Linked DNA regions of Homo sapiens. The protein of the gene in region 1 interacts with the protein of each later gene in a pairwise test. Each region holds a gene or a part of one and is shown in the gene's direction. Other genes may lie near its edges.

Region 1 (4,004 bases):
ATTTCCCATGTGTTCCCTACACCCACACATGTGTAGCCTCCCACCTTGTCAACATCCCTACCATCCATTTGTTATAACTGCTGAACCTCCATTGACACATCCATATCATCCAGAGTCCATAGTTTATCTTAGAGTTCACTCCTAGGAGCGAGCTTTTTAAAAGTCGGTTTTCTTCCCCTTTTGCTGTAGAAAGGCAAAGGCATCACAATGCTGGAAGAAATCAAAGTCCCATCCATCAAATTGGTGTACACTTTGACGGTCCCCGAGGCCACGGTGAAAGACAGTGGAGATTACGAATGTGCTGCCCGCCAGGCTACCAGGGAGGTCAAAGAAATGAAGAAAGTCACTATTTCTGTCCATGGTACATTCCGCTTTCTAAAATGTCAGTTGTCCATGCTGCTCGGGATCCATATGTGGTAATCATTATTTAATGGAAACTCTTCCCTGTACAGAGAAAGGTTTCATTGAAATCAAACCCACCTTCAGCCAGTTGGAAGCTGTCAACCTGCATGAAGTCAAACATTTTGTTGTAGAGGTGCGGGCCTACCCACCTCCCAGGATATCCTGGCTGAAAAACAATCTGACTCTGATTGAAAATCTCACTGAGATCACCACTGATGTGGAAAAGATTCAGGAAATAAGGTAAAGAAACTCTCTGCCCAAGTATGCCTTTTTTTAGTGTGCATCAGAGGCGGACTGAGGTTTGTGTGTGTCTTACAACCCAGACCCAAAGTCAGTCTAGAAAATGTAACAATCTGAGTTAAGAGATGCTTGAAATCACATCCCTTTAATGATAACATTGCAAAGTGGTATTAGTATGCTGGTAAGTATTTAATGAGAAGATGAGAAGAAAGAACTAAAAGCTCTGGCCCCTGGGGAAAGACAGGTCACTGGATTCAGCTAGGGTGGAAGAAAGGAAGTAAAATTGGACTCACCAGGATTGAATAGATTGAATATATTCCCTGATGTTCATCATCCATATCGCAAGTAGACAGATATGGTGATTACACCCATGAGGCAGTTATCACATCACCTTACGTGAAAGTTAACGTCATAGGCTTAATCTGGAACCCATTTGCCCTAATTGAGGACTCCACAGGAAAGAAGAGTAGAGCCTGGCTAATCAGGAGAGAGATGTGCAGTGAGTTGCTTGGATCCCTACCTTTTAATCAGAATGGTAGATTGCTCTCATCTCTTAATTGGTGGTGGAGTTTTGAATGAGTCACCCCTCAGCCACAGTTTCCTCATCTACAATGTAGGATAAACAATACCTTATGTCCTTCAAGGCAAGGAATTGGATCAGATGATATCATGAGGCCTCTTAAGGTTTTAAGCTGTGATTAGAACCCAAGAGTCAGAAGATACATCTCACAGCACCCAGCTAACCAGCCCTATACTTTTGTCAGAAATCATCTCAGAAAGACAAAGTCAGTCCTGTATTTCAAGCCTTCAGGAGGAAGAACAGAGCCTTTCTCATCAGTTCCATTCACCTCAGGATTTGCTTTCTTCTTTGTGAACTAAATTCCACGTGTAATTGAGAAGCAATGTCTGAGAAAATGGAATTTTACAGCCTCTATAGAATAGTAAAGGAAAAATGAAGTGGGATACTGAATCTGGAAGGCTTTCTGTTGACACAAAATGAAGGTGTACAACAAGGAGGGCAGCTTTCCACGAGGAACTTCCATGAGGCTGTGCAGCCAGAGAGGAATAGGGTAACAACCCTGGTACAGCTAACACCTCCAACACGTGTGTGAGCACTGTCTGCAAGCCATAATCCATAGCAGTGGCAGGACAGGCTCGCCAACTGAGTGGTTCTGGAAAGCTGCCTTTTCCTTTTAGTGATTCAAGGATGCTTCAACGTGGATTTTTTAGTTCCTGTTATGAGCCAGTGAATACAAAGATGAACATGGTAGATGGGGGATCTGGCTTCCTGGAGCTTAAAACTCCAGGATGGGGGATCTGGCTTTCCTGGAGCAAGAAAACCAGTGGTTTTCTTGGCCGAAGAAGTGAAGAGAACAAACAGCAGAGGATAATTTGGTAATCAGCATCCTAGTGTGCCCCAGGGTACTCTCTTAAGGAAATCCAGTCCTGGAGCACACCCAGTATGGTCCAGCCTGCTGTCTTCGTAGGTCTGAGTGCCCCAGTATTTGCAAAGTGTTTTGGAGCCTATGAAATGCTTTCACACATACAATCTCCTTTAATTAACTCTCACAATGACTCTGTGCTATGTGTACAATTATCACGTTTTACACACAAGGAAACTGAGGCATGGAGCATTGTAATAATACCCGAGATCTTCTCACTCCATGACCAATGCTTTTCTTCTCCATTCCAGTTGCTTTTTCAACTGTGATGATTTATAAAGGACAATCAAATGGGCACATACTATATTTATGCACATACATACACACACACACACACACACACACACACACAACCAGATGTCATTTATAATCCATGTAAAATATTTTTGGGGAAGTTTCTCTTTAATAAAGTTTGAAGAGACATATATTTTTTTTTTTTGAAGAGGCATATTTTTTCTAACTTTTTTTTTTTTTTTTGAGATGGAGTCTTGCTCTGTCACCCAGGCTGGAGTGCAGCGGTACGATCACGGCTCACTGCAACCTCCGCCTCCTGGGTTCAAGCGATTCTTCAGCTTCAGCCTCCTGAGTAGCTGGGATTACAGGCATGTGCCACCATGCCTGGCTAATTTTTTTTTTTTTGTATTTTTAGTAGAGATGGGGGTTTCACCATGTTTGTGAGGCTGGTCTCGAACTCCTGACCTCAAGTGATTCACCTACCTTGGCCTCCCAAAGTGCTGGGATTACAGGTGTGAGTCATCACACCCAGCCTATAACTTTTTTTTAATAGGTGATAGAATCCCGTGCTTGAAAAATAATCAAACAAAAAGAGAATGCATTGTAAGAAGCCTCACTGTACTCCTGTCCCCAGCTGCCCAGTTCTCCCCTCCTCCCCACAGGGAAACATCTTCATTAGTTTCATTAGGTTCTTATGAAACCTTCCAGAGTTTCTTTAAGCAAAATACAAGCAAGTAGGACTGTCATATCCTGCAGACCGCTACATACAAATACATAGAAAGTGTCCTCATTCTATCCTCCAGTGATATTCCATTTTTTGGCTGAACCACCTAAATGATGGATATTTAGGGGAAGCAAGTATTTTTTAAAAAAGGTAAAAATCAAAGGTTTTTATTTTTTATTTTTTTAAAGAAAAGTTGGTAGGCTGTGTTTATTCATTCAGAAGTCAGGCCGTGGCTGAACTGATAGCTCTTGGAGATGGCCATTGCTCATCTCTGAATGTCTGGTTTTCTCTTGTAAGAATTGTGTGTATGATCCAGACCTTCAGTGTGTGCACTATATATTGAGAATTCCAGAAGAGATGATATGGACAAGAAAAAAAGATGACTTTACTTTTTACAGTAAAAATAAAACTTAAATTGAAGAGTACAATTGTTTAAACAATTGGAACTTACTTAGCTACTGCTTGTTGAAACAAAATCCTTTTTTTAAAAGGTATCGAAGCAAATTAAAGCTGATCCGTGCTAAGGAAGAAGACAGTGGCCATTATACTATTGTAGCTCAAAATGAAGATGCTGTGAAGAGCTATACTTTTGAACTGTTAACTCAAGGTATGTAAAGGGAGTATAAAGATAATGCTAGCTCTGTAGATGAGTGTCTTCCAAGGAAAGCCTGGCACTTTTCTCCCCGGTCATGGAAGAAAAGCAGCACTTAGGGGAGAAGCAGTGTCTGCATATGTCACATATCGGGAATACCTCTGCTGGACTCATGAATTCAGGTATTTCTGGGAGGTTCTGGGTTACTCTAGAGTAGGCGAGGAATCCCTAGGCTCCACCAGCTAGCTTTATTTTTGTAGAGATGGAGTCTTGCCATGTTGCTCAGGCTGGTCTCCTGGGTTCAAGCTATCTTCCCACCTTGGCCTCTCAAAGTACTGGGATTACAGGTGTGAGCCACTGCACCTGGCCT
Region 2 (4,004 bases), on another chromosome or scaffold:
AAAAGTTCATAATTTGGCCATGAAATCAACTGTCTTCAAACTAAAGCTTAAAATACACTGTCTGAAGCTGAAAAAATGCTTTCATTCTCTATGAAACTGAAGGAACGTTTCATCCTTTCTAAAGTACTCAGGCAAGAACACAGTTTATCCGTAGGTACTATTTTTTCATATTCACTTAAGACAGGGACAGCCCTTGTGGTATCCCTAGACTAGTGCCTCACTATGGTGGGAGATGGAGAAAAAATCAGAACAGCTTGTGGGGTCCTCCCCCTCCCTCCGTACCAAACAAAACCAGGTGGTAGGTTTAGGGATGTCACTGAATAATCCTCTCAACCTTTTTGTATGTTTGACATTTTTCATAAGCAAATGTTGAGGGGGGAATGGAAAAAGAAAGAAAAACCAGGACTCCTGATCTGGCTAGGGACACGGCCACTTAGTATTTCTTTGCTCAGGTATAAACAGACATCGACATAGAAATGTCCAGTCTCGACTGCCCTGGTTGATTTTACTATTTGAATGTTTGTGGCACCCACAGATGCTTAACACCCCAAGTGTCTCTAGGAGCGTGGCTCTGCTGTGAGTCAGTGTCCGTGTGGTGGAGGGCCAGTGGGGTGGGGAGGTGCAGCTGCCCTAGGGTTTGGACTTCACGTGGAGACTTTGCCCTGCTATATCCTACCCAGTCCCTAGGTCCAGTCTTCTCATTGTGTAGCTATGTTTATTTATTTATTTAAATTTTTTTTCTTTTTGAGGTGGAGACTTGCTCTGTTGCCTAGGCTGGAGTGCAGTGGAATGACCTCGGCTCACAGCAGCCCCCGCCTCCCAGGTTCAAGCGATTTCCAGCTAATTTTTGCATTTTTAGTAGAGACAGGGTTTTGCCATGTTGGCCAGGCTGGTCTTGAACTCCTGACCTCAAGTGATCTTCCTGCCTTCCTGCCTCCAGCTCCCAAAGTGCTAGGATTACAGGCATGAGCCACTGCACCCAGCCGTGTAGCTATGTTTAAAAAGGGAGCCATTGTTCAAACACGAGTTTGCTAAATAGGAGTAGTTAGGAGACTTTTTTCCCCATTTTTAAAAATTGAGGAAAAATATACATATTTATCCTTTTAACCATTCTTAAGTATACAGTTCAGTTAAGTGGCATTAAATGCACCATTACTGCAAACATCACCACTGTCTATACATAAGACTTTTTCATCATCCCAAACAAAAACTGTACCCCTTAAGTAAAAATTCCCTGTTCCCCTTTCTTCTGGTAATCTCTCTTCTTTCTGTCTCTATGAATTTGCCTGCTGGAGGTAACTCACATAACTGGAATCATACAATATTTCCTTTTTGTGTTTGGCTTATTTCACTTAGCATAATGTTCTTGAGGTACATCTTTATTGTTGCATATGACAGGATTTCCTTCCTTTTTATAGCTGAATAATATGCCATAGTTCTGCGACTTTTGTTCTGTGTGAACCTCCCTTGGGCCCGTTTCATTTAGACCTGCATGTTAAACTTCAGAGAAGGTGCTGCTGTTGACTGAGGCTTCGTTCTCCTTTATCACCTTAGACCTTTGGGGTGGCACTGGCAGGCTTTGTCCTCAGTGTGGAACTGAGGACGCAGATTCGGTGCTGAGTGACTACCTGTGTCTTTCAACAGATGTTGCGTGGGCCTGTGTGCACATGCCTGGGAGTAGATGGGGGTAAACCAAACAGGATGCTCCTGCCCTCGTGGTGCTATCAGATTCTTCAAGAGGAAGCACACCAGCCAGTGGTGGTGCTGTGGGAAGGGCTGGGAGTGAACATGTATGGTCCCTTAGATTGGGGAGGTCAGGAAGGTCCTTCTGTGGGAGGGGTTCTGGGCTGAGGTTTTAGGAGTAGGAGTGAGCCAGGCAGGTGGGGTTGAGTTGGGCTTTTTTTTTTTTTTTTTTTTTTTGAGACAGAGTCTCACTCTGTTGCCAAGCTGGAGTGCAGTGGCATGTTCTCGGCTCACTGCATCCTCCGCCTCCCGGGTTCAAGCGATTCTCCTGCCTCAGCCTCCCTAGTAGCTGGGACTATAGGTGCGTGCCACCACACCCAGCTAATTTTTGTATATTTGGTGGACACAGGGTTTCACCGTGTTGGCCAGGATGGTCTCGATCTCCTGACCTCGTGATCTGCCTGCCTCAGCCTCCCAAAGTGCTGGGATTACAGGCGTGAGCCACCGTGCCCGGCCCAGCGTTCGGTTTTTCTAGCTGAGAGAAAGGTTTTGCAGGTTGGGGAGGACAGGAAGCATCGGTGCCTTTGACATACACAGGATCACAGAGTCAACCCAGACCTGCTGTTTGAGCCGCAGTCAGCATCTTGAGGCTCAGATGCTGCTCAGAACTGACCAACCTGGCACCTGGCTGCAGGCACGTTTCAGAGAGGAAAGACTTAAGCTTTTCTTCTCTGTGTTTTTCTGTCTTTACAGTTAAAAGAAAGCTACTTTAACTTTCTAAGCATCATTCTCAAACACTGATTTAAAGAGGAGTCACTCGGCTGGGCATGGTAGCCCGCGCCTGTTATCCCAGCTCTTTGGGAGGCTGAGGCAGGTGGATCACTTGAGATCAGGAGTTCGAGACCAGCCTAGGCAACAGGGTGAAACCCCCATCTCTGCTAAAAATACAAAAATTAACCGAGTGTGGTGGTGCACGCCTGTAATCTCAGTTACTCGGGTGGCTGAGGCACGAGAATCACTTGAATCTACAAGGTGGAGGTTGCAGTGAGCTGAGATTGAGCCACTGCACTCCAGTCTAGGTGACAGAGTGAGACTCTCCCAAATAAATAAATAAAAAATAAAGAGGAGTCACTTGGAGCAAGCAACCTGTTTCTGTGTTCAGTTTGGTAATTTTTCCGTGGTCTTATCTCCTGGCCTCATTAAACCTTTTTTGCCTAACTTATTATAAATCTTTAATTAGTAATGGTGATAATTGATCAGTATATCATGCATTACAGATTGAGCCTGCTGTCACACACAGCACCACTGTGATCCTCAAGGCAAGCCTGTCAGGTAGACAGTAGCGGGTGTTAGACCCTTGGTACCGTGCAGGAGCTTGAAACTCAGCAAGGTTAAGTGACAGGCTCAGACCACACGCTCAGTGCCAGAGCTGGGGAAGGACCCAGGCCTCCCACCTCCAGCCACTTTAGCACTGCACACCCAGTTTTCAGTGAGCTTCCCCTCCCTGTGCTTTTTAAACAGGGTCTTGCTCTGACTCCCAGGCTGGAGTGCAGTAGTGTGACCTTGACTCACTGCAGCCTCTACTTCCTGGGTTTAAGTGATTCTCCCACCTCAGCCTCCGGAGTAGCTGGGACCATAGGTGTGCCTCCACACCTGGTTAATTATTTAATTACTTTTAGAAATGCCGTCTGCCTCTGTTGCCCAGGTTGGTCTCCAGCTCCTGGGCTCAAGCAGTCCTCCCACCTTGGCCTCCCAAAGTGCCAGGATTACATGTGTGAGCCACTGGACCCAGCCTGCCCTGTGCTTTTTCACCTTTGGTCACTGCCTTCCTCCTCCACCACTGACACTGCTCTCCTGGTGGGCCGCATTGCCCAGACAGGTGAGGTTTCCTGGCTCAGAGAATGGCACCACCACTGGCCCCATTTTTCAAACCAGAAACTTGGGCTCATCTTTCATATCAGTCCTTTCCAGTGAACATTACTTACTCCTATGGGTTCTACCTCTTAGTGCTGTTGAGTGCACCCACTTTTCTCTATCCTGTAACTGCTCTCTATTTCAGATCCCCATAATTCTTTGGGCAAACTTTCATTGTGACACATACCCTATAGTGTATTTAAATAATTGATTTTCTCCTCTGCCTTCCCATCTTGAGCTATGAGCTCCTTAAAGTCAGAGGCAAATCAGTCTTTCTGCATCCTCAGGACCAAGTAACAGGGTCACCTTGTGTGGGTGTTCAGGTTGTGCACTGCTCAAGGGCCCTACATATAAGAGGGCTTGTCTCACATCACATGTATACACATTTATATGAGGGCATGTGCAGT
Region 3 (4,004 bases), on another chromosome or scaffold:
GAACAGATTAAATGCTAGTCTAATTGGTGGTTTGATATTTGATTCTTTTGCACAATCTGTCTTTACTTGCAAAACAGATGTTCTGTTCTTTTAATGTTTCAATAGCCAAAACAGATTTTCTTTTAAAGAAATCTATTAACCCAATGTCCTGTGTCTTTCAGAAAGAAATCGGTTCTTAATTGCAAGATAAGAAATTGTTTTTCAACACAGCTGTTTAGCCAAGATGTGTTTAATTTTCTTTGGACTTTAGCCCTTTCCTTCCCTCTCTATTTTTTTATTCATTTCTATTTTGGTAGTTCTTTCTTGACCTGAATATTACGGCAAAATACAGATTTCTAGGGACATATCAGTGAAATGATGTCATCATTATTATTATTTACCAATTTTAAATCTAAGCAGTCTTTAAATTTTACATATTCAGTTTTCCATAGTCTAGTCCATTAAAACACAACTTAAGAAAATATTGTTAGTTCCTTGTGGAGATTCTCAGTACATTACTAAAGCAATTAGTTTGTGCCCTGCAAAACTTTAATGAGCCAACATTGGTACCTTGATACTGTCATAAGGTGTACAACATGCTCTAAATTAGTTATAGTAGAATGTCAAAAATTAAAAATCTTACAGCCATATAGGTAAGTATGGTAACTGTGGAGACTGACCAGAAAAAGTGGATTCATTGAGCCAGTACATGTTACTGTGTTGTAACTTTTATCATTCTTTCTTTGAAGTCTTCAATTTTTCAGTTCTACTCAAACATTTTTGTTGAAACAGGGCACGGTGGTTCACGCATGTAATCCCAGCACTTTGGGAGACTAAGGTGGGAAGATTGCTTGAGCCCAGGAGTTTGAGACCAGCATAAGCAATATAGTGAGATCTCATCTTTACAAAAAAATTTTTAAAAATATGGCCGGGCACGGTGGCTTACTCCTGTAATCCTAGCACTTTGGGAGGCCGAGGCAAGCGGAGTTTGAGACCAGCCTAACCAACATGGCGAAAACCCGTCTCTATAGAAAATACAAAAATTAGCCAGGTGTGGTAGCGCATACCTGTAGTCTCAGCTACTTGGGAGGCTGAGACTGAGAATTGCTTGAACCTGGGAGGTGGAGGTTGCAGTGAACCAAGATCGCGCCACTGCACTCCACCCTGGGTGACAAAGTGAGACTCTGTCTTAAAAAAAATAAAAAAAGGAAAATTAGCTAAGCATGGTGGTACGGGCCTGTAGTCTCAGTTACTCTGGGGGCTGAGGTGGGAGGATTGCTTGAGCCCAGGAGATTAAGCCTGTAGTGAGCTGTGATCGTGCCACTGCACTCCAGTCTAGGCAACAGAGTGAGACCCTGTATCAAAAAACAAATAAATTAAAATTTTTTATTGAAATATAACTCAGATACCATAAAATTCACCCTTTAAAAGTGTACAATTCCATGGTTTTTGATATACTCACAAGGTTGTGTAGTCATCACCACTGTATAATTCCAAAACACTTTTTACCACCCCCAGAAAGAGACTTCCTACCTATTAGTACTCACTCTCTACTTTCTCTTTCCTCAAGTCCTTGGCAACCACTGATTTATCTTCTGTCTCTATGGATTTACCTATTCTGGACATTCCATATAAATGGAATCTGATAATATATGGCCTTTGTGTCTGGCTTCCTTTACTTAGTATAATGTTTTCAGTGTTCATCCATACTATTGCATATATGAGAACTTCATTCCTTTTTATTGCTGAATAACATTTCGTTGTATGGCTATACTACATTTTGTTTATTCTTTCATTAGTTGATGGACATTTGGGATAGTTCTACTTTATGCATAATTATGAATAATGCTACTCTATATATTTGTGTACAAGTTTTTGTGTGGACATACGTTTTCAGTTCTTTTTTTTTTTTTGAAACAGAGTCTCGCTCTGTCGCCTAGGCTGGAGTGCAGTGGGGTGATCTCGGCTCACTGCAACCTCCACTGCAACCTCCACCTCCTGGGTTCAAGCGATTCTCCTGCCTCAGCCTCCCGAGTAGCTGGGACTACAGGCGCGTGCCACCATGCCCAGCTAAGTTTTGTATTTTCAGTAGAGACAGAGTTTCACTGTGTTAGGATGGTCTCGATCTCCTGACCTCGTGATCTCCCCGCCTTGGCCTCCCGAGGTGCTGGGATTACAGGTGTGAGCCACTGCACCCGGTCAGTGTTTTCAGTTCTTTTGGGTATATACCTAGGAGTAAAGTTGCTAGGTCATATGGTAGCTTTATGTTTAACTTTTTAATAAACTACCAAACTTTTCCAATCTGTTTTACACCACTTTGCATTCATACCAGCACTGTATAAGGTTCCATTTTCTTCATATTTTTGCCAATACTTGTCATTTTGTGTCTTTTTAAAATTGTGGGCTTGTAGTGTGACATGGTATCCCATTTTGGTTTTGATTTAGGTTTCTCTAATGACTAATGATGTTGAGCATCTTTTCATGTGCTTATTGGCCATTTGTATACCTTCTTTTGAGAAATATGTTTTCAAATCCTTTGTCTATTTTTTAAATGAGTTATTGGGCTTTTATTGTTGAGTTGTGAGAATTCTTTATGTATTCTAATACTTGGCTCTTATCAGATATGGGATTTCCAAATATTTTCACTTATTGTTTATCTTTTCACTTTCTTTTTTCTTTTCTTTTCCTTTTTTTGAGCTGCGGTCTCATTATGTTGCCCAGGCTAGTTTTGAACTCCTGGGCTCAAGTGATCCTCCCACCTCAGCCTCAAGTTTTATTGTTTTAGCTTTTATATTTAAGCCTTTGATTTATTTTTGAGTTAATTTTTATATATGGTATGAGATAGGGGTCCAAATTTATTCGTTTGCATGTAGATATACATTTGTTCCAGTACCGTTTGTTAAAGACTGTTTTTCCCATTGAATTTTCTTGTTATACTTGTTGAAAATTGACCATAACATATATTTCTGTACTTTCAGATCAATGCGTATACATCTCGCATTGATCTAGTTGTCTATCTTTGTACCAGTACCACACCATATTTGATTACTTGTACTTGAAAACTCTGGATTATTATAGTTTTTAAGTTTCAAATCGAGAAGTGTAAGTGCTCCAACTTTGTTCTTTTCAAGATTGTTTTGGCCATTTTGAATACCTAGCATTTTCATTTGAATTTTAGAATCAGCTTGGCAATTTCTCCAAAAAAATCCAGCTGGGATTTTGATAAGAATTGAATTGAATTTTTAGATCAACTTGGGGAATATTGCTGTCTTAACATTATTTAATCTTCCACTCCGTGAACACAGATGTCTTTCAACTTACTTAGGTCTTCTTTAATTGTTTTTCAATGATTTAAAAATAATTTTTAGGGTATAAGTGGTAACTATTTGTTAAATTTGCTTCTAAGTTTTTTTAATGCTGTTTTTCTTAATTTCATTTTTGGATTGTTCATTGCCAGTGTATAGAACTGTAATTGATTTTTGTATATTGATCTTGTATTCTGCAACCTTGCTGAACTTGTTTACTAATGTTAATAGCTTTTTGTGGATTCCTTAGGGTTCTCTATATACAAGATAATGCCATCTGCAAATAGAGGTAGTTTTAGTGCTTTCTTTTCAATTCTGAATGTCTTTTATTTCCTTTTCTTGCTTAATTACCCTGGCTAGAACCTTCAGTACAATGTTGAATAGACTGATGAGAGCAGACATCCTTCTCTTGTTCCTGACCTTAGAGGGAGAGCTTTCAGTCTTTCACCATTAAATATGATGTTAGCCATGGGTTTGGAATAGTTGTCCTTTGTCAGGTTGAGGAAATTCCTTTCTATTTCTAGTTTGTTGAGTTTTTTTTTTTTTTAATTATGAAAGGGTATTAAATTTTGTCAAATGCCTGTTTTATATCTATTGAAATAATCGTGCATATTTGGTCCTTTATTCTATTAATATATGGTATACTATATTAATTGATTTTTGCAAAATGAACCAGTCTTGCAGTGTTGGAATTATTCCACTTAGTCATGATGTGTAATT
Region 4 (4,004 bases), on another chromosome or scaffold:
CAGTTTAAAAACAATGCTTAATGCAGGTATAGATGCATGGACCTTTCAGATTATCTATGGACCACAGGTAAGAAATGACTCATCTTGAAGAACTAAAGTTTGTACTCAGTGCTGCAATGTCTGTGAGATGATACATTCCTTCTACTATGTTTGATTTTTAAAAAGCAGTTTATTTTATCCTTGAAAAAAGATTACACTAATTTTCTTAATCTGATAAATGCCCTGAGGTGTGAGATCTGTTTCCTAATTAAAAGTACTTTACAGCAAATCTAGAGCAAGACTGAGGGGAACGAAAGTTACCAGTTTTGAAGGCCATAGTGAAAATGTCCCATCTCAACAATAAAAATTGGATTTAATTAAAACAGAACTAAATTCTGATTATATCTGTCTGCAACATGATTAATAATACTGTTAACTTATGGGTGCTTTTGATTTAAAAAGAGGCCCACATAGAACCTGTGGACAATGAGGAAAACAGCCCATGTGAATGAGTGGGTGAAGTGGATCACATTAGGGCTTTCAGGAAACAAGGTACCTTTTTGCTATTATGTGTAGAAACTAAGGCAATGTGTCATTGGAACAGCTAAGCCTGCTGGTTGAATTAGAGGCAGATTATTTCTCAAGGGACCTGTTTGTTGTTGTTGTTGTTGTTGTTTTAACACACACACACACACAACTAAATAGATACAGGATAACATTTTGTTTAAGCATTTTCCTGGTGAACATTAAAAAGGCATTTCCTAATGCCTATGAAGAAGTGGGAAGATGGGGAAGGAAACATTTTTTTCATTGCAATTTAAAATGATGCAAATTATTGAGTTGGATGCTATATATAGTAAGGCATACTTAAGGAGGGTAAGAGGCAAATAAGTTTTATATTTGCCTTTCTAGAAGAGGCATATTGAATGCATAAAAAAAACAAAGTGTGTATAGTGGTAGATGATGGGGCAGTTGAAAAAGATTAAGTGGAAGATGAGTTTACCTACAGTTTTAAGCTCAGAAGAGCAACTGTGGATTCTGGTGGTGATTCTGGCTAGCTGGTTGACTACCTGTTCTTGCCAGGGACACCACTGACCTGTTCTTTAGTTTGTTTACCTCAGAAAAGAGTCAGCTATTCCAACAAGATAGTGTGGAAGTCAATAAGACAATTTTTAAAAACTTTACAAGCACTTCCACAGTCTCAGATAATGTGTAAGGCATATATTTGAAAGAAATATTAACTTTGACATAACAGAGATGAGCTTTGTCTTAGACAATTAAAAATGCAGTGTAGGGTATCAGATATATGGAGGAACTACCTATTTCTCAAATAATCAGGTCAAAACTTTAACTGTTTTATCTATTTTAGAGCCTTTATATCCAGAATTTTCTATAATCAATATCAGACATTTACACTCATCTGTACTTATCTGGCTCACTTTACTTTTCAAGATTATAAAATATGAAATGTCAAAATATTACCTTCATCATAAATGATGCTCACATATAATTTTTGAAGTATTCGTTCTTGTATTCTCAAGATGATGAAATAAACCATTATTTAAACTACTGATCATTTCCTACATTTTTTCCAAACAAAAACTAGAATATGGATTAGTCTATTTCACACCTCCACTTAAAGAAAAAAATGTCCATTTTTATATTCCTTTTAATGTCATAAATGTGTTACTATTATGCTACTTTCTCTGTCATTTTACTGAGTACAGAGAAAAAGCAAACTTCTAAAAAAAGAAAAGAAACAATTATTTCCTGATTTAAGGATTCCACCGTTGTTATTAGTAGAAGGCTATGGTAAGGTACCAACATCTGCTTAAAGTTATACAGAAAAGAAGCTGAGTCCAGAAGTGAGATCAGAGTTATTACAATAGACAGAACAGAATTTGGGGTGTAGGCCACAGTACATCTTCTTATTTTCTTATTCAGGGAGAAATTCCATATGGCTGCTTTTCTGTGGGTGCCATGAAGATGGGAGTTGATAAGGCTGGGATGCTCCTGGCACCCTAAGACTCTTCTTCACCAAGGCTCAATGAGTAGAGGTTTTCGTCTCAGTAACTGCTGCTTTGTCTCAATCATAATTTTCTCTTATTTGCATCAAACTATCCTAAAGCAGGATGTGGGCATTTGTATTTTTCCTGGCTTCCTCATTCTATTGCTTTTCAAATACAGCTATTTCAATGTTCCTAGAGTGAAAATCCCAAACCAGCTTCTGTGAGTCAGGGCCTTTGTGTGAATTGTGATCCACTGTATGTGTGAGAAATAATGCATTGAAATGTTTTAAAAAAATCAAAAGCTATGAAGCTCATAAATTGACCATGAGTCTGAGTTTTTCTGTCATCTGCTTTTTTATGTTCCTTATAGGTACCCTGTGTGATCACGCCACCCTGGTCATGGGAAATACTTGCATATGAGAATGGGCAACTGAGAGGATCTATTTTATAATCCCACAACACAACGAGAGTAGCTTTGTATGTGGGTCCTAATTTGTCCCAAGGACAATAGCCATTATTTTGGTTGTCCATGTGTAACTAAGATTTTTTTTTTAAAGTTTTCCTCCATCAGTTGGGAGTTTTTCAAAAGTGTGTGTGTGTGTGTGTGTGTGTGTGTGTGTGTCAGAGAGAGACAGAGGGAGAGGGAGAGAGTGCAACGGAGAAAAAAGAGAGGTTTGTGAAATCTTAGACCTAAATGAAAATAGCTATTTCTACAACAGACTGGCTTTTCTCCTCAACAACTTTTCTCAGGGTCAATATTTCCTTCAGCTTTTGGTGTTCTTTTTGTAAGAGGAGGTATGGGGTGCTGGAGCAAAGGCCTACAGCAGAGACAGCAGTTAAATCACACTGAGCTAGGTTTGCATATGTTTTCTATGTATTTTATCCTGTGTGCATGATCTATCTGCAAATAAATCCATCTCTATTTTATTCATAGTTCTAATGGCAAGTCTGTGTCATGGTCTGAACCAGGTGGAGGACAGGTGCCCAAGGGACAGCATATGTGGCACCGCCTCTCTGTGCACGTGAAGACCAATGAGACGGCCTGCAACCAAACAGCCGTCATCAAGCCCCTCACTAAAAGTTACCAAGGCTCTGGCAAGAGCCTGACCTTTTCAGATACCAGCACCAAGACCCTTTACAACGTAGAGGAGGAGGAGGATGCCCAGCCGATTCGCTTTAGCCCGCCTGGTAGCCCTTCCATGGTGGTGCACAGGCGCGTGCCAAGCGCGGCGACCACTCCGCCTCTGCCGTCCCACCTGACCGCAGAGGAGACCCCCCTCTTCCTGGCCGAACCAGCCCTCCCCAAGGGCTTGCCCCCTCCTCTCCAGCAGCAGCAGCAACCCCCTCCACAGCAGAAATCGCTGATGGACCAGCTCCAGGGAGTGGTCAGCAACTTCAGTACCGCGATCCCGGATTTTCACGCGGTGCTGGCAGGCCCCGGTGGTCCCGGGAACGGGCTGCGGTCCCTGTACCCGCCCCCGCCACCTCCGCAGCACCTGCAGATGCTGCCGCTGCAGCTGAGCACCTTTGGGGAGGAGCTGGTCTCCCCGCCCGCGGACGACGACGACGACAGCGAGAGGTTTAAGCTCCTCCAGGAGTACGTGTATGAGCACGAGCGGGAAGGGAACACGGAAGAAGACGAACTGGAAGAGGAGGAGGAGGACCTGCAGGCGGCCAGCAAACTGACCCCGGATGATTCGCCTGCGCTGACGCCTCCGTCGCCTTTCCGCGACTCGGTGGCCTCGGGCAGCTCGGTGCCCAGCTCCCCCGTGTCCGAGTCGGTGCTCTGCACCCCTCCCAACGTATCCTACGCCTCTGTCATTCTGCGGGACTACAAGCAAAGCTCTTCCACCCTGTAAGGGGGAAGGGTCCACATAGAAAAGCAAGACAAGCCAGAGATCTCCCACACCTCCAGAGATGTGCAAACAGCTGGGAGGAAAAGCCTGGGAGTGGGGGGCCTCGTCGGGAGGACAGGAGACCGCTGCTGCTGCTGCCGCTACTGCTGCTGCTGCCTTA
Region 5 (4,621 bases), on another chromosome or scaffold:
GATTGGGGTGGGTGATGAGAAAAGTTTCCTGAGTAACACAGTTCCCAATCCTGGCAGAATAACTCACCCCAGTTGCACTCACAGCCAAGACCCACTCAGCCCCTGGACCAGTCTAACACAGGGCTTGGTAAATCCAGGAGTGAATACTACTGAGGCATCTGCCAGGGCATAGGAAACAGTAACAAGAGGACGGCTCAGCTAGTGGCTCAGACTATCTTGCCCCACACTCTCCAATATTGAGTAGGGAGTAAGCCTTGAGCCCAGGAGGTTGAGGATTCAGTGAATTATGATCGTGCCACTGCACTCCAGACTGGTGACAGAGTAAGAGTCTGTCACACATGCTTACACACACAAATTAAATTGTGTGAGCAGTTGTCACACAGGGAGATCTGGATGCACTCACTGTGGACCCAGGTCTCAGCGAGCAGGAGGGTGTTCTGTATTGTGGGAACATGAGGGACACGCATGGGACCGGGCATTTGTGCCTAGCTTTGAAGGGTGGCTGGCCCTTTGCCCAGGGCGAAGAGGCCAGCAGAATGCACTAACAGTGGGGAACCACCAGGAACTTTCACTTGAACCTGCTCTGCTGAGCCCCCTGTGCCATCCGTGGACCTGGGCGAGGGAGGCTGCTGAACTGGGAGCTCAGGGCCCATCTCTCTGAGGAGCTTTCTAAATCAGCAAGTGTGTCACAGGTTGAGATTTTAGGAACGGGGTCCTCCATGTTGTCCTCGATTTTAATAAGTAGACTCTTTTGGCCAATCTGCATTGGGCAGAGCAGGAACAAGACATAATTTTTTAATATATATTTTTAAAGCTGTTTAATTTTGGTAAAAACATAGAAGATAAAATTTACCATCTTGACCAGTTGTTTAGTGCACAATATGTTGTTTTAAACCTCTGGAACCCTGCCTGCTGCTCCTGTAATAAAACCTAGCCCGGGCCAGGCGCGGTGGCTAACGCCTGTAATCCCAGCACTTTGGGAGGCCGAGACGGGTGGATCACCTAAGGTCATGAGTTTGAGACCAGCCTGGCCAACAAGATGAAACCCCATCTCTACCAAAAATACAAACAATTCGCCGGGCGTGGTGGAGGGCGTCTGTAATCCCAGCTACTCCGGAAGCTGAGGCCAGAGAATCCCTTGAACCCGGGAAGCGGCGATTGCGGTGAGCCGAGATCACGCCACTGCACTCCAGCCTGGGCAACAAGAGCGAAACTCCGTCTCTAAATAAATAAATAAATAAATAAATAAATAATAAAACCTAGCCCGGACTGTAATCACGTCCACTGGGAACTGGCGCAGTAGTGGAGGGGACGCGATCAGGCCCGTGGCTGCGCCCAGAGCATGATAAGCCAGGGACCTCGCGGCGCAGGCGGAGGGAGGGAGAGCGTCGCGGACCCAGGCGGGGACAGGGAGACGCCGCCGCCGCTGAATATTCCTCTGCAAGTTTCTTCACCTTCAATAAAAAAATGTTGTGATGATTAAATGAGTCTGTCGTGGAAGGAACCGTGTCTTGGCAGGAGCCGGGCGGACACCCAGACACCAACCCGAAGGGGGTTGGGACAAAGGGGAGGGACGCCCGGGAAGGGGAGGGACACCGTCAGGGCAGCCAATCATATTTCTAGCCGCGTGACGCTATGACCCGCTTGACGCTATGACAGCGGGAAACGGGGGGCGCGCCCGTACATAGGGAGGCTTTAAAACCTTGAGGTGATTCATCTTCCAGGCTCTCCTTCCATCAAGTCTCTCATCCCTAGCGCTCTGGGTCCTTAATGGCAGCAGCCGCCGCTACCAAGATCCTTCTGTGCCTCCCGCTTCTGCTCCTGCTGTCCGGCTGGTCCCGGGCTGGGCGAGCCGGTGAGTTCGTGGATGGAGCCTAAGCCGGGCGGGGACCAAGCCTGGAGGGCTGTGAACTGCCGCGGGTTTCAGAGGAGGGGAGGCTTCTAGAAGGACGGGGGAGATCTCCCCTAACTGCGCCCCCGTTCAGTTCCGGTCGGCGGCTCCTTCCTGCTGGGTGCAGTCCCCGAGGCTGCTTCTTGCCCGGGAAGAGGCGAAAAGGAGCGGGGTGGAAAGGAGGCTGGCAGGAGGGTGGAGGGGCCGGAGGGCTGCAGAGAGCGAGGTGGGGCGGGGATCCCTGGTGCAGCCTGGCAGTCCCACCCGCCCTCGGGAAGGAAAAACCAGAGCCCCCGGAACCGGAGCTGGGGACAGGACAGGGGTGAAGCGGGATTCCACAGGGACGCGATCACAGACACCCCCACCAGCCACAGGCCTGCTCTGCTCTCACCCGCTCTCCACCACACAAACCCTCCAGCGCCCCCAGGGCTGCGTGCCCTTGAATTTTTCCCTGCACTTTCCTGTAGACACTCACCTGCACCCAGGGGCTCAGCAGACAACCGCCACCCCTCCCCTCACCATCCACTGCCACCACCCAGGTCACGTCCTCTTACTGCCCACCTCAGCCCAGCTGGTCACCCCAGAGGTCTCCCCATCCATGAAGGGGACCTCACCACCTCCTACACCACGTCGCACCTTCTGCCTCTTGCCTGAGGACACACCCCAGCAAACACACCCCAAGCTCCCCTCAGAACCTGTGCAGGGGGGATGGGAAGCACCATTTCCTCCAGGATGACCCTGGGAACTCTGGTGAGTAGAGGCACCCACTTCTGCCCTTGGGGCCCAGACCGCCTGTTCTTCCTACGGGGGTGTCAGCGTCATAGAGAATAGTCACTGTGTAGACAGGGGTCAGCAAACTCTTTCTAGAAAGGGAGGAAGGATGCCCTGTGATCTTTGCAGGCCGTGGGTTCTCCGTCTCAGTGTCCAGTCCTGTCCCTTTGTAGAGCAACAGCAGGCAATGGCAACCTTCAAATAGGGGGGACCAGATTTGGACCCTGTCCTAGGTTGCTGATCCCAGATCAGGGGATTACAATGTCCCAGTGAATAGTGCCCCATCCCCTATGGTGTCATCTCCAAGTGATGTCTCTGATGTCAGTTGGAGAGTAGAAGGTGGTCCTACCTTGTCTGTGGCTTCTGGGTGGTGTGGATGTGATGGGAGTGGGGGTCCCATAGTTGGGGGCTTATTCTCCCCTCCTTTGTGCTGAGTGGCATCCACGGGGACCATCAGGTACCCTCCCTGAAGCCTCAGGTGTGAGCTGAGGGTGAGGGGGTGCAGCCACGTGGTGTCCTGGGGATCGGGTCCAACTGCTTGTGCAGCTTCTTGGTTCCCGGTGGCCCTGCTCCTGCCCATCCCAGAAGAACCACCTGCGTCTTCTCACTGCTGGGCCTAACTTCCTAATGACCTAGAGGGTGAGGAGCCCACCAGTAATGGGCAGCTCTGAGGCCTTCAGCAATAGGCATCCCTAAGCTTCATTCCATTCTGGTGCCTTGTCATGGGCCTTCTTTATATGCATGGCAAAAGGCCCCATCTCTGCCAAGGTGCAGTACTCTACAGGAGCCACTGCTTAATGTTGCGATTTCCTTGCTGTGAGTGGCATTGCCTTGTCTCTGAATATTCACATGGAATCTCTGTTGTGATTCTCCAATTAGACATTGTGACCACATGTACCTCTAGGGTCTTAGGGGGTCTTGGGTCATTGGGCACTTAAGGTAGGTCCAGCCTCGCTCATCATGCATGGATTGTCTATGGCTGCTTTTGAACTTCAACAGCAGAGTTGAGTAGTTACAATGGAGAATATATTCCCTGCACACCTTTACATGTTTACAAAATTGCCCTTCACAGCAAACTCTACTGGCCATAAATATCTTTGGAGAAGGCCACAAGGACTCACTGTCCTGGCTGCAGGGTTAAAGGGTCCTTCCTCACTAGAAACTGGTGTCTTCTTCTAGTCATGGGTTCAGGGTCTGAGAAGTGGCTTCATTCTGCAAATTAGGCAAAGCAGCCTCGTTCTTGATGGACTGGCTACTTTCAGCCTCCTGATTTGGTTTATCTCTGTTTCTTGTAATTATTTAAATCCAGCAGTATCTGGGGTGGGTTTGCATCTCTTTTGGACCTTGGACCCCTTTGTTCTATGAGCCATGGGCATAACTTTGTATAACTGAGGTCCCCAGCTGGCATTGTGACTTCTCTAATCATTTCCATCATTGCACCCTCCTTGCTCCTGACAGTTGACAGCCTCCACCTGGAATTTGGAATTTCAGAATTGTTCATCCCATTACTCTGGGAGCAGATTTCAGGAACAGCATCTCCTACCCCCAACCCTGGCCTTCAGCAATAGGCATCCCTAAGCTTCATTCCATTCTGGTGCCTTCTCATGGGGCCTTCTTTATATGCTGGGTAAACAGGAGTCCTCCAGGTTTCCCATAAGCACAGTGGATGGACATTGTTCTGGATTTTCACACTTAGACCCCTCTGGCATGGGCACTTCTCTGAGCCTGTGATCTCTCCCTCCACTACCTGCCTTAGACTTTCAGATTTTCCATTTCTTGCTGTGTGGACCATCTCTTTGTCCAAGGTTTCAGGAAGGCCTCCTCATAGCAGATGCATGCCATCACCAGGGGCTTTGCCAACATGTTAAATCCTGTGGCCATGATAATTAACTCTTCTTTATCCAACGGGGTTCCATCCTCACTCTGTTCAACCAGCACCAGCATCCACAGGGGTGGACC
Region 6 (4,004 bases), on another chromosome or scaffold:
TCCAGCCCAGCCCCGCACTTCATCACAAACACTGACCCCAAAAGGGACGGAGGGTCTTGGCCACGTGGTCCTGCCTGTCTCAGCACCCACCGGCTCACTCCCATGTGTCTCCCGTCTGCTTTCGCAGAGCTCCTCCCTGAATGAGGCCAGCAGTGGCCTCTTCGACGTCTTCCTACGCTTCATGTGCCACCACGCCGTGCGCATCAGGGGCAAGTGAGTCAGGTGGCCAGGTGCCATTGCCCTGCGGGTGGCTGGGCGGGCTGGCAGGGCTTCTGCTCACCTCTCTCCTGCCCCTTCCCCACTGCCCTTCTGCCCGGGGCCACCAGAGTCTCCTTTTCTGGCCCCCGCCCCCTCCGGCTCCTGGGCTGCAGGCTCCCGAGGCCCCGGAAACATGGCTCGGCTTGCGGCAGCCGGAGCGGAGCAGGTGCCACACGAGGCCTGGAAATGGCAAGCGGGGTGTGGAGTTGCTCCTGCGTGGAGGACGAGGGGCGGGGGGTGTGTCTGGGTCAGGTGTGCGCCGAGCGTTTGAGCCTGCAGCTTGTCAGCTCCAAGTTACTACTGACGCTGGACACCCGGCTCTCACACGCTTGTATCTCTCTCTCCCGATACAAAAGGATTTTATCCGATTCTCATTCCTGTCCCTGTCGTGTGACCCCCGCGAGGGCGCGGGCTCTTCTCTCTGTGACTAGATTTCCCATCTGGAAAGTGCGGGGTTGACCGTGTAGTTTGCTCCTCTCGGGGGGCCTGTGGTGGCCATGGGGCAGGCGGCCTGGGAGAGCTGCCGTCACACAGCCACTGGGTGAGCCACACTCACGGTGGTAGAGCCACAGTGCCTGGTGCCACATCACGTCCTCTGGATTTTAAGTAAAACCACACACCTCCCGGCAGGCATCTGCCTGCGACCCTGTGTGTGCCTGGGGAGAGTGGTAGCACGGAGGAAATTCGTGCACACTCAAGGTCATCAGCAAGGTCATCCGCAGTCAGGTGGAACGTGGAGGCCTCTCTCTGGGATCGTCTCCAGCGGATAAAGGACTGTGCACAGCTTCGGAAGCTTTTATTTAAAAATATAACTATTAATTATTGCATTATAAGTAATCACTAATGGTATCAGCAATTATAATATTTATTAAAGTATAATTAGAAATATTAAGTAGTACACACGTTCTGGAAAAACACAAATTGCACATGGCAGCAGAGTGAATTTTGGCCGAGGGACACGTGTGCACATGTGTGTAAGCGGCCCCCAGGCCCACAGAATTCGCTGACAAAGTCACCTCCCCAGAGAAGCCACCACGGGCCTCCTTCGTGGTCGTGAATTTTATTAAGATGGATCAAGTCACGTACCGTCCACGTGTGGCAGGGCTTTGGGGAATGTGAGGTGATGACTGCGTCCTCATGCCCTGACAGACAGGAGGTGACTGTGTCTGTCCTGTCCCTAGGACACGGACAGGCCCGAAGCTCTAGTCCCCATCGTGGTCCAGTTTGGCCTCTGAATAAAAACGTCTTCAAAACCTGTTGCCCCAAAAACTAAGAACAGAGAGAGTTTCCCATCCCATGTGCTCACAGGGGCGTATCTGCTTGCGTTGACTCGCTGGGCTGGCCGGACTCCTAGAGTTGGTGCGTGTGCTTCTGTGCAAAAAGTGCAGTCCTCTTGCCCATCACTGTGATATCTGCACCAGCAAGGAAAGCCTCTTTTCTTTTCTTTCTTTTTTTTTTTTTGAGACGGAACGTCACTGTTGTCTGCCTGGGCTTGAGTGCAGTGGCGCGATCTCAACTCACTGCAACCTCCGCCTCCCGGGTTCCAGCATTTCTCCTGCCTCAGCCTCCCGAGCAGCTGAGATTACAGGCACCCACCCCCTGCGCCTGGCTAATTTTTGTATTTTTAGTAGAGAGGGGTTTTTGCCATGTTGGCCAGGCTGGTCTCGAACTCCTGACCTCAGGTGATCCACCCACCTCGGCCTCCCAAAGTGCTGGGATTACAGGTGTGAGCCATCACGCCCAGCCGGAAAGCCTCTTTTTAAGGTGACCACCTATAGCGCTTCCCGAAAATAACAGGTCTTGTTTTTGCAGTAGGCTGCAAGCGTCTCTTAGCAACAGGAGTGGCGTCCTGTGGGCTCTGGGGATGGCTGAGGGTCGCGTGGCAGCCATGCCTTCTGTGTGCACCTTTAGGTTCCACGGGGCTATTCTGCTCTCACTGTTTGTCTGAAAACGCACCCTTGGCATCCTTGTTTGGAGAGTTTCTGCTTCTCGTTGGTCATGCTGAAACTAGGGGCAAGGTTGTATCCGTTGGCGCGCAGCGGCTACATGTAGGGTCATGAGTCTTTCACCGTGGACAAATTCCTTGAAAAAAAAAAAAGGAGTCCGGTTAAGCATTCATTCCGGGTCAAGTGTCTGGTTCTGTGAATAAACTCTAAGATTTAAGAAACCTTAATGAAAGAAAACCTTGATGATTCAGAGCAAGGATGTGGTCACACCTGTGGCTGGATCTGTTTCAGCCGCCCCAGTGCATGGTGAGAGTGGGGAGCAGGGATTGTTTGTTCAGAGGTCTCATCTGGTATGTTTCTGAGGTGTTTGCCGGCTGAATGGTAGACGTGTCGTTTGTGTGTATGAGGTTCTGTGTCTGTGTGTGGCTCGGTTTGAGTGTACGCATGTCCAGCACATGCCCTGCCCGTCTCTCACCTGTGTCTTCCCGCCCCAGGTCCTACGTCCAGTGCCAGGGGATCCCGCAGGGCTCCATCCTCTCCACGCTGCTCTGCAGCCTGTGCTACGGCGACATGGAGAACAAGCTGTTTGCGGGGATTCGGCGGGACGGGTGAGGCCTCCTCTTCCCCAGGGGGGCTTGGGTGGGGGTTGATTTGCTTTTGATGCATTCAGTGTTAATATTCCTGGTGCTCTGGAGACCATGACTGCTCTGTCTTGAGGAACCAGACAAGGTTGCAGCCCCTTCTTGGTATGAAGCCGCACGGGAGGGGTTGCACAGCCTGAGGACTGCGGGCTCCACGCAGGCTCTGTCCAGCGGCCATGTCCAGAGGCCTCAGGGCTCAGCAGGCGGGAGGGCCGCTGCCCTGCATGATGAGCATGTGAATTCAACACCGAGGAAGCACACCAGCTTCTGTCACGTCACCCAGGTTCCGTTAGGGTCCTTGGGGAGATGGGGCTGGTGCAGCCTGAGGCCCCACATCTCCCAGCAGGCCCTCGACAGGTGGCCTGGACTGGGCGCCTCTTCAGCCCATTGCCCATCCCACTTGCATGGGGTCTACACCCAAGGACGCACACACCTAAATATCGTGCCAACCTAATGTGGTTCAACTCAGCTGGCTTTTATTGACAGCAGTTACTTTTTTTTTTTTAATACTTTAAGTTCTAGGGTACATGTGCACGACGTGCAGGTTAGTTACATATGTATACATGTGCCATGTTGGTGTGCTGCACCCATTAACTCATCATTTACATTAGGTATATCTCCTAATGCTATCCCTCCCCACTCCCCCCATCCCATGACAGGCCCTGGTGTGTGATGTTCCCCACCCTGTGTCCAAGTGTTCTCATTGTTCAGTTCCCACCTGTGAGTGAGAACATGTGGTGTTTGGTTTTCTTTCCTTGCAATAGTTTGCTCAGAGTGATGGTTTCCAGCTTCGTCCATGTCCCTACAAAGGACATGAACTCATCCTTTTTTATGACTGCATAGTATTCCGTGGTGTATATGTGCCACATTTTCTTAATCCAGTCTATCATCGATGGACATTTGGGTTGGTTGCAAGTCTTTGCTACTGTGAATAGTGCCGCAATAAACATACGTGTGCATGTGTCTTTATAGCAGCATGATTTATAATCCTTTGGGTATATACCCAGTAATGGGATGGCTGGGTCAAATGGTATTTCTAGTTCTAGATCCTTGAGGAATCACCACACTGTCTTCCACAATGGTTGAACTAGTTTACACTCCCACCAACAGTGTAAAAGTGTTCTGGTGCTGGAGAGGATGTGGACAGCAGTTATTTTTT
Region 7 (4,004 bases), on another chromosome or scaffold:
ATCCGGATCCCAGGCCCAACACTCACAGTGAGTGACATCAGCCAGATCACTTCATCTCCCAAGACTTCATTGATTCACCTGTAAAAGGAGATGTTTGAAACAGATGAATTTCAAGCTCCTTTTTATTAATACCTCACCATCATCACCGCCGTCATAAGCAAGCATGCAGCCCACAGCAGAGCTGCCCCTGGCGCCTGTGGGTCCAGCTGGGATTCCCCTAAGGTGTGTCCTTTGCCTCCACCATTTTGCCAGGAGGGAGGCGGGAATGTCGGGTGTTCCTGGTTATCTGGGCATCGTTCCTTGGCTCGGGTGAACTGCATCTCAATGAATTGTGGAATGTGCTGGGTTAGAGTTGCCAACTTCTCTCTTCCATTCGCTGAGTGTTCATGGGGTTCTTTTCATTCCCCTGTGGGGCTGCACTTTCTCCCAGTTCTGCAAAGCAGCAGGAGGCTTTGGGGACTCGATGATGTCATTTCTGGGACACATACACAACTGGATAGTGACAGATTCTCCAGGAAGCACAGAGCCCTCATTCTTCCTGGCCTGCTTGGCCTGCTCCCTGCATCTGCCTGCAATCCAGGGATGCTGGGCGCCTTTCTCCTCATCCCTCCAGACGCTGGAGAGCATCTCCAGTCGGAACTCCCCACCACAGTCCTGCAGGAAGTACTAGGAGTGAGAGCAGAGGAGGGGCAGGTTGGGGAGGATGCTGGCTGACATTCATTGCTTACCTTGAACCAGGCACTGTGCTTTTACAAGGATTATTTTAAGTGAATCCTCAGAACAGCACTACAACGTGGGTATTGCTGTTGTCATTATTTGCAGATCAGAAAATGAAAACTCAGAGAGGTCAGGTAACTTGCTCATCTTCACACACTTGGTAGGTGGTGGGATGGAGATTCCACCTCCTTCTGATTCCAGAGCTAATACTCTGAACCAGTGAGCTGTGTTCTCCAGAGGTCTGCTTTGGTTGGAGGGGAGCTGGAGCCCTAGGCCCTGGGACGGCCTCTGTTGCCCATGGCAAGGCGTGTGGCTGCTCCTGCTCTCTTCAGATCTCCAGATGCAGCAACCTGGAGAAAGGCCCTCCTGGGTCTGGTGGGGACTGGGGCAGGAGTGGAGGCTGCCCAAGCTCCGTGCACTCCACGTTCCAGCTTGGAGCTTTTTGAGTCTACTCTCCAAATCCTTCCCATCTCCCTGAAGAGTCTTCTGAGAAGTGTCTCAAATGCTCCTCTTCACTCAAGAGCCTCCTTTCTTTTTTTTTTTCTTTTCTTTTTCTTTTTTTTTTTTGAGACAGTCTTGCTCTGTCACCCAGGCTGGAGTGCATGGCACAATCTCTGCTCACTGCAACCTCCAACTCCCGGGTTCAAGTGATTCTCTTGCCCAAGCCTCCAGAATAGCTGGGATTACAGGCGCGTGCCACCATGCCTGGCTAATTTTTGTATTTTTAGTACAGACAGGGTTTCACCGTGTTGGCCAGACTGGTCTCGAACTTCGGACCTCAGGTCATCTGCCCACCTCGGCCTCCCAAAGTGCTAGGATTACACTGTGAGCCACTGCGCCCAGCCTTCAAGAGCCCCCTTTCTTTGAGAAGTTTCTTCAGAAGTTATCCATATAGTAGTACAGACCTAGCCATTATAGCACACCATCCTCTACTATCTAATGCATTGATGCCCAGCCTTAAGAAGTCTGAATATTGTACGTTTTGGGGGGAGTCCTCCATGCTGCCTGGAACAGGGAGGAGCACATTGTCATGAGTCGATCAGAATGGATCGCTGATCGGTTCATTGCCTCTCTCTCTGCTGCAGGAGGAAGGATCTCAGGAAGTCACCAGCATCTCACCTCTCCAGGTGGGCAATTAACGATGGCGAGGGCACACCCTCACCCCTGAGCGTGCCTTCTGCACCAGCATATTGCTTGTTGGCATTTTTGATCAAGAGACTTAACAGACTGCTGAGAAATTTGTACCTGGTTTTTATTTGTTAAAATAATATTACGTACAAATTTTACAAACTCATCTGTGTTTCTCCCACCTAACAGAACAGCTTTTATTTTCCGTGCATCCTTCCAGTTCATCCATAGGCATATATGTATGTATTTACCCATGGTTGTAATCTTCATCGTCGCATGCATGCATGCAATTTGGTTTTCCGCTTCCTTCTTCTGAGTGGATATTGTGACCATTTCTCCATCCTGTCATAGCGACAAAGCTGATGGTTTCCAGGAATGGCTGCATTGGGTAGGTGGAGCTTTCCACAGTTGAGGGTGGGGGTTGGCTAATTACAGCTAGGAAGCTAGTGCACAGATGAAATGATGTTTGATTTTTTTGTTTTTCTCTCTGTTCAGTATCCCCTACCAGTAGAGAGGGGGATGTCCTTGAGAGTGGTCCTGGGGCAGCCCTGGTGCCACGGGGAAGTAGCGCCGCTCTGTGGAGAGGGCTGCTTTGTGAATTTGCCGGCTGGTAGACACCGTGATCCATTCTATTGTCTCCTCATTGTTCTTCTCCTTGGGAGTCATTCCCATTCCAGATCCTCAAGTAAGAGCAAAGTAGACCTGTAAGGCACCTGGGAGGTTATCCTGCTTACTATCTTTAAACTCTTGACCTAAGCCATGTAGGAAGAAACACATTTTATAACACAACTCAGGATACTTGTACAAGTATATCAAACTGATACAAAAGTTTCTCCGAACAATATTTACTCTTAACGACATACGGTGAGCCTGATACTTTCTATCCTACTCTATTTGGTTAAAGGAGAACAACAACAGAAAGTGCTGGTCACGACCCACAAATGCATTTCATGACCCATTAATGAGTTGCAGCTAGAAGTTAGAAAAACACTTATCTCACCCAACCCGTTATTAGACAAATGGGAAACCAAGCCCTTGGAAAGAGGAAGTGACTTGCCCACAGTCCCACGTCTGGACCTAGCTGGAGGGCTGATGTTGCCTCAGTATTTGACTAACCTGGAGGAGAGGTGGGGCATGCTCAGGGATCCCGAGGAAGATGCTCGTCTTCTGTGTAGCGGGCAACAGAGGGCAGCACGGCCGCCGTCCTCGTCTCCAGCGGCGTCTCTCCTCTGGCTGTGGGAACACACTGCTCCTTTGGTGCCACTCTGAGCTGCTGAGAGGCAGTCAAGTTCATGCACATAGTGCTCCCCAATTCTGTGGGATTGGACAGTGTCCCCAAGAGGACTCCCCTGAAAATCTTCTTAGTAAAACAAAAAGGGAGGTAGAGTCTCCCTGTGCAACCGGTGCACCTGTTCCCCCTATGCCTGCTGGCTTCCAGAAGTTCATTCGTATGCCAATAATAAGAGTTGGTTTTGCTAGCAGTGGGACAGCAGAGATGGGCATGTGTGAGGTGTGCTTCCCGGTCTGAGGCCTATGGCAGAGGGAAGGGAGGGCCGGGGATACTTGCCTGCCTCTTCCCTGGCAGATGCTCCCACCCGGGCCTTTGTGGGCCCAGGGCCATGGGCCGGCTGCCCCGCTTGTGTTATGAATGTCACAGGGGGGAGCTAACGAGGTTATTGGGCAGAGAAACACTCTCCTGTGACCCATGTGGAAGAGACCTACAGCAGAGCAAGAGGCAGGGAGGCTGGCTTTGTCACACTGTTCATGGCGACAGAGAAGGCGTAGGAGGGGCGGGTGGACAGCAGGCGTGGGCGCAGCACCATTATATACGTCCCTCAAGAGGTGGAGATGGTGAGAGGGCAATGGAGAAAAAGCCAAGGAGACAGGCAGATGGCCAGGTTTGCTCTGCGTTCATGATGGGAGGGGAGGGCTGTGCTTGGCTCAGGGATCCACGGTGTCTAACAATGCTGCTAACTTGATGCTGGGGCAATGGGCTGACCATTAAAAGAGCTGCTGTAGAAAGTGTGTTTGTAATAGAGTGTGTACAGGAGGAAGGGGAAATAGGAGAGGGGCTGGTTTTTGTAGATTTAACCTGATTGTTTTTGCTGTAAGTTGAAGGGTGACCCACGGTTCCCTGTATGCTGTGTCTCCTGCCCCCA

The links.
Region 2: the proteins of PDGFRA (region 1) and LATS2 come close enough for resonance energy transfer, tested with the Homo sapiens proteins (one large-scale study listed by BioGRID).
Region 3: the proteins of PDGFRA (region 1) and MAP2K5 come close enough for resonance energy transfer, tested with the Homo sapiens proteins (one large-scale study listed by BioGRID).
Region 4: the proteins of PDGFRA (region 1) and GRM1 come close enough for resonance energy transfer, tested with the Homo sapiens proteins (one large-scale study listed by BioGRID).
Region 5: the proteins of PDGFRA (region 1) and ULBP2 interact in a two-hybrid assay, tested with the Homo sapiens proteins (one large-scale study listed by BioGRID and IntAct).
Region 6: the proteins of PDGFRA (region 1) and TERT come close enough for resonance energy transfer, tested with the Homo sapiens proteins (one large-scale study listed by BioGRID).
Region 7: the proteins of PDGFRA (region 1) and CCND2 come close enough for resonance energy transfer, tested with the Homo sapiens proteins (one large-scale study listed by BioGRID).

The regions. Positions count from the first base shown.
Region 1 is NC_000004.12:54,267,100-54,271,103, forward strand, and holds part of PDGFRA (platelet-derived growth factor receptor alpha isoform 1 precursor), read left to right. Parts: intron 1-189; coding exon 190-361; intron 362-452; coding exon 453-642; intron 643-3,533; coding exon 3,534-3,649; intron 3,650-4,004. UniProt on the Homo sapiens protein: Tyrosine-protein kinase that acts as a cell-surface receptor for PDGFA, PDGFB and PDGFC and plays an essential role in the regulation of embryonic development, cell proliferation, survival and chemotaxis.
Region 2 is NC_000013.11:21,051,150-21,055,153, reverse strand, and holds part of LATS2 (serine/threonine-protein kinase LATS2), read left to right. Parts: intron 1-4,004. UniProt on the Homo sapiens protein: Negative regulator of YAP1 in the Hippo signaling pathway that plays a pivotal role in organ size control and tumor suppression by restricting proliferation and promoting apoptosis.
Region 3 is NC_000015.10:67,646,699-67,650,702, forward strand, and holds part of MAP2K5 (dual specificity mitogen-activated protein kinase kinase 5), read left to right. Parts: intron 1-4,004. UniProt on the Homo sapiens protein: Acts as a scaffold for the formation of a ternary MAP3K2/MAP3K3-MAP3K5-MAPK7 signaling complex.
Region 4 is NC_000006.12:146,430,950-146,434,953, forward strand, and holds part of GRM1 (metabotropic glutamate receptor 1 isoform alpha precursor), read left to right. Parts: intron 1-2,922; coding exon 2,923-3,847; 3' UTR 3,848-4,004. UniProt on the Homo sapiens protein: G-protein coupled receptor for glutamate. Ligand binding causes a conformation change that triggers signaling via guanine nucleotide-binding proteins (G proteins) and modulates the activity of down-stream effectors.
Region 5 is NC_000006.12:149,940,303-149,944,923, forward strand, and holds the start of ULBP2 (UL16-binding protein 2 preproprotein), read left to right. Parts: upstream 1-1,711; 5' UTR 1,712-1,770; coding exon 1,771-1,855; intron 1,856-4,621. UniProt on the Homo sapiens protein: Binds and activates the KLRK1/NKG2D receptor, mediating natural killer cell cytotoxicity.
Region 6 is NC_000005.10:1,267,328-1,271,331, reverse strand, and holds part of TERT (telomerase reverse transcriptase), read left to right. Parts: intron 1-127; coding exon 128-213; intron 214-2,698; coding exon 2,699-2,812; intron 2,813-4,004. UniProt on the Homo sapiens protein: Telomerase is a ribonucleoprotein enzyme essential for the replication of chromosome termini in most eukaryotes. Active in progenitor and cancer cells. Inactive, or very low activity, in normal somatic cells.
Region 7 is NC_000012.12:4,283,473-4,287,476, forward strand, and holds part of CCND2 (G1/S-specific cyclin-D2), read left to right. Parts: intron 1-4,004. UniProt on the Homo sapiens protein: Regulatory component of the cyclin D2-CDK4 (DC) complex that phosphorylates and inhibits members of the retinoblastoma (RB) protein family including RB1 and regulates the cell-cycle during G(1)/S transition.